2 linked regions of the Homo sapiens genome follow. Changing the gene in region 2 together with the main gene of any one other region gives a genetic interaction. Each region holds a gene or a part of one and is shown on either strand. Other genes may lie near its edges. The genes, in order: GBF1 and ATG9A.

Region 1 (3,810 bases), on a different chromosome or scaffold from region 2:
ACACGGTGAAACCCCGTCTCTACTAAAAATAGAAAAAATAGCTGTGCATGGTGGCAGGCGCCTGTAGTCCCAGCTACTCGGGAGGCTGAGACAGGAGAATGGCGTGAACCCGGGAGGCAGAGCTTGCAGTGAGCCGAGATTATGCCACTGCACTCCAGCCTGGGCGACAGAGCAAGACTCCATCTCAAAAAAAAAAAAAAGAAAGAAAAGAAAAATAACGAAAGTAAAAATGTATTAAATCTGGCCAGACACTATTGCCCAATCAAAGCCTCTGAGCCTGAGGTTTTCTGTTTTAAAAATGAGATTAACAGCCAGGTACAGTGGCTCACACCTGTAATTCCAGCACTTTGGGAGGCTGAGGCGGGAGGATCACTTGAGGCCAGGAGTTCGAGACCAGCCTGGGAAAAATAGCGAGACCCTGCCTCTACAAAAATAAAAATGCAAAAATTATCTGGGCATGGTGGCACACATTGTAGTCCCAGCTACTGGGGAGGCTGAGTAGCTGAGTAGGTGGGAGGATTTCTTGAGCCTAGGAGATCCAGGAGGCAGTGAGCCATGATGGTGCCATGCACTCCAGTTTTGCACAGAGCAAGACCCTGTCTCAAAAAATAAAATAAGAAATAAAATTAGGCCGGGCATGGTATAATCACACCTGTAATCCTAAAACTTTGGGAGGACTATTGCTTGGGCCCAGGAGCTCAAGATCAGCCTGGGCAACATGGCAAAACCCCATCTCTACAAAAATACAAAAAATTAGCTGGCTGTGGCAGCGCACAGCTGTAGTTCCATCTACTCATAAGGCTGAGGTGGGAGGATCACCTGAGCCCAGGAGTTCGAGGCTGCAGCGAGCCGTGATTGTGCCACTGCACTCCAGCCTGGGTGACAGAGTGAGACCCTGCCTCAAAAAATAAAATTAAATTAACAACATGAGGCTTTCTCTGTCATCAGCAGGTGTGAAATAGAATTGAAAAGAAAGTATCTTTCTCACTGTGAGTAAGGATTGTGAAATACTCAGTCCACACACCTCCTAAGGCTCTCTCTCTCATGAGTAATCTCTGACTTGGAGAGTCCTTTACAAGGACTGGAACAACCAGGAAGTCAAGTCAAGGGAAAGAGTAGCGAGGGGGTGAGGTATGGCATGATTGGTGCTAGGGACACCTTGAGGACTTAGTTAGGGACAGTGAGTGGGGAGGGGGAAAGGGATCCACGAGACCTAACCCCACTCACATCCTGCCCCCTCCTGTGATCCTAGTTGCTAGACCTGATGCACACCCTGCACACGCGGGCAGCCTCTATCTACAGCTCATGGGCGGAGGAGCAACGCCACCTGGAGACAGGTGGCCAGAAGATTGAAGCTGATTCTCGCACCCTCTGGGCCCACTGCTGGTGCCCTTTACTGCAGGGTAAACCAGGAGGGGCAGAGGTAGGGAGTTTGGGGAGCATCAGGATCAAGATGCCTGAAGGATCCTGACCCTGCTCTTGCTCTCAGGTATTGCCTGCCTGTGCTGCGATGCCCGGCGCCAGGTACGGATGCAGGCACTGACCTATCTGCAGCGAGCACTACTTGTACATGATCTGCAAAAGCTAGATGCCCTGGAATGGGAGTCCTGTTTTAACAAGGTGGGACTTCCTACTGGTCTTAAGATAAAGTTCAAATCCTAAGAAAAGGAAAGCCAGGCAGCCTGAAGAGCCCCTAATGTGAGTCTTCAGCCTGCATCATACCTTCCCTTCAGCTCTATGCCCATCCAGTTCCTGGCTTCCTTGGGGCAAGGCTGCCTAGCTGAACCTCATAGGGAGACATTGCACATTTACCCCCACCAGGTGCTGTTTCCTCTACTTACCAAGCTCTTGGAGAACATCAGCCCTGCAGATGTGGGTGGGATGGAGGAGACCCGGATGAGGGCTTCCACATTGCTCTCTAAGGTACTGCTCACCACCCTATACCCACCCTCTCTCCCATACCTGCCTTTTCCCGAGGAGGGAAGCCAGGGCTTCTGGCAGGACCTAGAGATGCACTGTAGGTGCTCACAACCCCCCAGCTATGGACACTAAGCAGGACCTAGGGACCTGAGAGGATTCTGAATCTTAAATCAGAGATTCCTCCATCTCTGATCTAAGATTCTCATGCAAGATAGGACAGGCTTAGCTACCCAGCCTCAGAGAGGGGTCCAGAGGCTCCTACAGTCCCCTCAGCTGAAGGGGGCTGGTGGGCCATAGGTCTTCCTGCAGCACCTGTCTCCACTGCTGTCACTCTCTACCTTTGCGGCCCTCTGGCTCACCATCTTGGACTTCATGGACAAGTACATGCACGCAGGCTCCAGCGACTTACTGGTATGTTCTACCTCAGCTCTGCTGCCTGCCTCCTGTCCCACCTGTTGGAAGGACTTGCCCTTTCCCCCTTGGTAGCTACCTCCCTTTACCATACTCCCCCCATGCCCTCTTTCCTATTCTCATGGTCCCACTGCCACCTGCAGTCAGAGGCGATCCCTGAGTCTCTGAAGAACATGCTTCTGGTGATGGACACAGCGGAGATTTTCCACAGTGCAGATGCACGGGGAGGCGGCCCCTCGGCCCTCTGGGAGATCACCTGGGAACGCATTGACTGTTTTCTCCCTCACCTACGAGATGAACTCTTCAAGCAGACCGTCATCCAGGGTAGGGGGCTCAGCCCAGCTTTATCAAAAAGAGTCTCCTGCCTGGGCACAATGGCTCACACCTCTAATCCCAGCACTTTGAGAGGCCGAGGTGGGTGGATCACCCGAGGGCAGGAATTTGAGACCAGCCTGACCAACATAGTGAAACCCCATGTCTACGAAAAATACAAAAATTAGCCAGGTGTGGCGGTGGGTGCCTGTAGTCCCAGCTACTCAGGAGGCTGAAACAGGAGAATCACTTGAACCCGGGAAGTGGAGGTTGCAGTGAGCCGAGATCACAGCCTGAGTGACAGAACGAGATTCCATCTCAAAAAAAAAAAGTCCCCAAAGCTGAATTTATTGTCTGTGCCCTGGGTGGGTAGAAAGGCTGTTGGGTAGCTAGGGCTCTGCTGGAGAGAGAAAGCACTAAGAGGTGCCATCTCAATTCTCTACCGTCTCCAGACCCCATGCCCATGGAGCCTCAAGGCCAAAAGCCTCTCGCCTCAGCCCACCTGACTTCCGCTGCTGGCGACACTAGGACACCTGGCCATCCACCGCCCCCAGAGATTCCATCTGAGCTGGGGGCCTGTGGTGAGTCTCTCTAGCCTAGCCTGATAGGCACTGAGTAGCAAGCAGGGGGCCTAAGAGGAGGCCCAAGGGGGCGTGGGAATGCTGCTGAGCAGGGTCTGTGAGCCGAGGGAAGAAGGCCACTAGAGAGAACTGTTGCCGCTCTTCCCATGGGAAATGACAGGACCATAAGCTATGAGGAACTAGCTGCTTGCAGTCTTCAGGCTTGGGAAGAGAAGGCTGGGTCAGGGACTTGGAATGAATTTGCAGAGGTTTCCTTTCAGGGATTCTAGTAGAGAGTAACCTGGCGGCCAGGCGCAGTGGCTCATACCTGTAATCCCAGCACTTTGGGAGGCTGAGGCAGGTAGATCACCTGAGGTCAGGAGTTTGAAACCAGCCTGGCCAACATGGTGAAACCCCGCCTGTACCAAAAAAATATAAAAATTAGCTGGGCGTGGTAGTGCACACCTATAATCCCAGCTACTGGGGAGGCTGAGGTGGAAGGATCGCTTGAACCCGGGAGGCAGAGGTTGCAGTGAGCTGAGATCATGCCACTGCACTCCAACCTGGGTGATAGTGAGACCCTGTCGCGAAAAAAAAAAAAAAAAAA
Region 2 (3,810 bases):
ATAGCCACTGCACAAGGAAGAGCAGAGTAAGCAGGGCTGTTCTCTTCCAGGAGCCTTCCTGCACCTTTCCTGTTAGTGGGGAGGCCTTACCCTTGGAGAACGGAGACCACAGTATACTGTCAATCTTTCCCAGGGCACTGGTGCCCCCCCAGACCCAGGAGGGGCTGCACTGCATGCTGAGCCAGTTACTTGTGTTGTGCCTTTTTTTTTTTTTTTTTTGAGATGGAGTCTCGCTCTGTCGCCCAGGCTGGATTGCAGTGGCGTGATCTCGGCTCACTGCAAGCTCCGCCTCCCAGGTTCACGCCATTCTCCTGCCTCAGCCTCCCGAGTAGCTGGGACTACAGGCGCCCGCTACCACGCCTGGCTAATTTTTTTGTATTTTTAGTAGAGAAGGGGTTTCACCGTGTTAGCCAGGATGGTCTCGATCTCCTGACCTCGTGATCCACCCGCCTTGGCCTCCCAAAGTGCTGGGATTACAGACGTGAGCCACCGCGCCTGGCCGTGTTGTGCCTTTCTTAAGGGAGCTTGGCCAAGGGTGCGAATTAGGGCTGAAATCCAGCCCAGGCTCCCAAGCAGTGTGCCCCTGGTATAGGACTGCCTTTGTGTGACTCAGGAGAGGTGTCTTTTTGCGGTTTTCCCAAAGACACTGTATGTTCCAGCATCATCCCAGGCCACCTGGCTCCCTCCTCTCCCAGTACCTGGGGATGACCATGCTGGCGAACATCCATCTGAGCAAAGGAGCAGGTATCTCCCACACCAACGACCTCCACGGTGAAGTTTCGGAAGAAGTCTATAATCTCCAGGGCCCGTGGGCGCAGGCAGAAGATGAGGATGAGGGGTGTGACAATGGGGCTCAGCAACTCTTCCAAAATGAACACCTAAAAGGGCGGGACCAAGGTCACAAGCGAGCAGGAGGGAGCCCAGCCCTCACCACCGAGCTACCAGCCAGTCTCTAGCAGGCCCTAACTCCAACTCCACTCACTGCCTTGTACTGGAAGAGCTGGGCAAACTCGTCCCGGGTCTGCGAGCGGTGGGCATTACCCTGCCAGTGGTCAGGCATGTAGTGGATGTGAGCGAGGATCACGCGGAGCAGCTGCTCAGGGCAGAACACCATGTGCTGGTCCGGGATAAAGGACCTAGTGGGATCAGGATCATGGTGAGATGTATGCCTTTCCCAGGAATGCTAGCCGGCTTGCTCCCGCCTGTGGCCCTGGCCCACCTGCACACGGTCACGGTGACCCCCAGGAGTGTGACGGTGGTCAGCACATGTTCCACAGCCAACACATCTTCGTCATAAATGGTGAGGGCAATAAGCACAGCCAGGATGGAGCCAGCGAAGAAGGCTCCATTCTTGGCCAGCAGTGTCAAAAGAGGTGACAAGAAGCAATTCATGTACTTGGAGGCGGGCTTGTAGCCACGGTTGAGGCGGGACTGCAGCTCGTGCTCCAGCTCGTTGAAGTGGCGGAGGTAGCAGCGGCCATAGAGTGACCAGCAGCGTGCTCCCAGGGCCCCCGGCTCCCGCTTCAGCACCTCAGCATAGCTGAAGAAGGCATAGAGGATTTGCCATATGAGGATGAGGGGGCACAGCAGGAAGTTAGCGATGCCAATCCACAGGATGCGGTTGCTGAGGCGCTGGGCCAGCTCTAGCCGTTGCCCCCCACGTTTGTACTCGGCCTTGAGGCTCCATTCATTGAGAAACAGAGAGCCAGGTCCCCAGAAGAGGATCAGCTCAAAGTTGTACTTGAGACCACGGGTGAAGAAGACAGCTTCCCCGAGGCCAGGCAGGCGGAAGCGCAGAGGCAGGAGGGATTTGTTAACCAGTGCCACCATGTAGTTCTGGAAACGGAGGATGCGGTGGTAGATGTCCAGTTCTGTCAGCTCACGTTTGTGGATGCAGATCTGGTGCTCCTTCTGCGTCTGCACGATCCGGGCCTGCACTTCTTGCCACGTGCAATACGGAAGGGCAGACTGCGGGGTGGGGTGGGGAAGAGACAAGGTACGGAAGGTGGGGTTGTTGCCTCGACCCCTTTGCCCTATATTAGAAGTGAGATTCAGGGGTTGTGAGCTTAAGAGACAGTTCCTGATTTGTCAATGACAGATAAGGATAACTGATGCCCAGGAATACACCCACACCTCCCAATACGTCTTAGACTATGGGCTAACTGCCCAACTTCCCAGTCTTACCATAGGGATGCGCAGAGCGTGCAGGTAGAAGGAGTGGATCTCCCAGTAGCAGCAAATGTTATAGATGAACTTGATAAGCCGGTGGATCCAGAAGACACCAGCAATGACCAGGATGGTGATAAGGGAGCCATTTTCCTGAATCCTGGTGGGGAAAAAGAAGGGGAGGAGAGGTGGCCCTCGAGGAAGGAGTCTTGGCAGAGACGCTGCTATCCTGAAGTATTTTTGCTAGACCAAGCCTGAGTCAGTTCTGGAGTATGAGTTGCTGCCTCAGACTCCACTCTATTACCCACCTGCTAGCAGAACTCAAGGCTATGGTGTCCTCTTGACTTGCAGCCCTTACCTGGCACTACAGACTTGAGCAGGCAAAAAGGCGTCTGGCAGAGTGACCTTGACGGGTTCAGTAGGGTGAAGACTGTGGTTCACCATCTTGTTGGCAAATAGGATGTCATAGTCCACGCAGCTGACCAGGAAGGTAGTGAAGGCAACCACAAAGAGGAACTGCCTGGGGAGTTGGGAAGAAGGGGTGCAGTCTGAGAGCCAGAGAGGCTCCAGTGAAACCCAGTGGGAAGAGGAGAGTCTGGAGGTGGCAGAACAAGACTGGGAACTGGAAGGGCCTGGAGAACTCCCAGTGGGCCCTCTCTGCTCCTCAGCCCCACAGGACTGTCTCAGGCCCACTCTTTGCTCTTAGCCTCAGCTGCCACAGCTGCAGCCTACTTTCCTCACCTCATGGTAACCTCAGCCACCACTACTGGACTCTCGAAGGTTTCATCCTGTGGGTCTCTGATCTCCAGTCTCTGATTTCCTTTTGAGGTTGTAGTTAAAAGCCCTTGGGGGAGTTTTCTGATTGAGGGAGGGCTTCCTAACCCCTTCCCCTTCGGCAATGCTATATGGCTTCTCTCTCCCAGGAGGCTCTCTGCCTAGGAGCAGGCCATGGAACAGGCAAGGCAGAACAGAGGCTTTTCTCTGTGGCTGGCATCTCTGAGACCTCCTGACTGAACAATGTACGTTCCATTGGAGCGTTGAGATGATCAAGGTCAAGGCCTGCATTCTTTTTTTTTTTGAGAGAGTCTCACTCTGTCAGCCAGGCTGGAGTGCAGCGGCACAATCTCGGCTCACTGCAACCTCCACCTCCCAGGTTGAAGCGATTCTTGTGCCTCAGCCTCCCAAGTAGCTGGGATTACAGGCGTGTGCCACCACACCCAGCTAATTTTTGTATTTTTAGAGCCTCCTAAAGTGCTGGGATTACAGGTGTGAGCTGCCGTGCCCAACCAAGGCTTGGGTTCTTTTCATGGAAGAGATAAGGCTTGGAAAGCTTTTCTTGTAAGAAAGCTTGGCCGGGCGTGGTGGCTCATGCCTATAATCCCGGCACTTCGGGAGGTTGAGGCGGGCAGATAACCCGAGGTCAGGAGTTCGAGACCAGCCTGGCCAACTTGGTGAAATCCCATCTCTACTAAAAATACAAAAAAAATTAGCCGGGCATGGTGGCACATGCCTGTAGTCCCAGCTACTAAGGAGGCTGAGGCAGGAGAATCACTTGAACCTGGGAGGCAGAGGTTGCACCGAGCCAAGACCACTGCACTCCTGCCTGGGCGACAGAGTGAGACTCACTCCATCTCAAAAAAAAAG

The links.
Region 1: changes in ATG9A (region 2) and GBF1 together harm fitness more than expected from each alone (negative genetic interaction), as found in Homo sapiens cells (one study listed by BioGRID).

What each region holds. Positions count from the first base shown.
Region 1 is NC_000010.11:102,378,032-102,381,841, forward strand, and holds part of GBF1 (Golgi-specific brefeldin A-resistance guanine nucleotide exchange factor 1), read left to right. Parts: intron 1-1,252; coding exon 1,253-1,403; intron 1,404-1,489; coding exon 1,490-1,620; coding exon of another isoform or gene 1,621-1,662; exon of another isoform or gene 1,663-1,698; intron 1,699-1,821; coding exon 1,822-1,923; intron 1,924-2,217; coding exon 2,218-2,331; intron 2,332-2,474; coding exon 2,475-2,655; intron 2,656-3,095; coding exon 3,096-3,224; intron 3,225-3,810. UniProt on the Homo sapiens protein: Guanine-nucleotide exchange factor (GEF) for members of the Arf family of small GTPases involved in trafficking in the early secretory pathway; its GEF activity initiates the coating of nascent vesicles via the localized generation of activated ARFs through replacement of GDP with GTP.
Region 2 is NC_000002.12:219,222,887-219,226,696, forward strand, and holds part of ATG9A (autophagy-related protein 9A), read right to left. Parts: intron 2,687-3,810; coding exon 2,525-2,686; intron 2,327-2,524; coding exon 2,185-2,326; intron 1,969-2,184; coding exon 1,220-1,968; intron 1,137-1,219; coding exon 983-1,136; intron 879-982; coding exon 699-878; intron 8-698; coding exon 1-7. UniProt on the Homo sapiens protein: Phospholipid scramblase involved in autophagy by mediating autophagosomal membrane expansion. Cycles between the preautophagosomal structure/phagophore assembly site (PAS) and the cytoplasmic vesicle pool and supplies membrane for the growing autophagosome.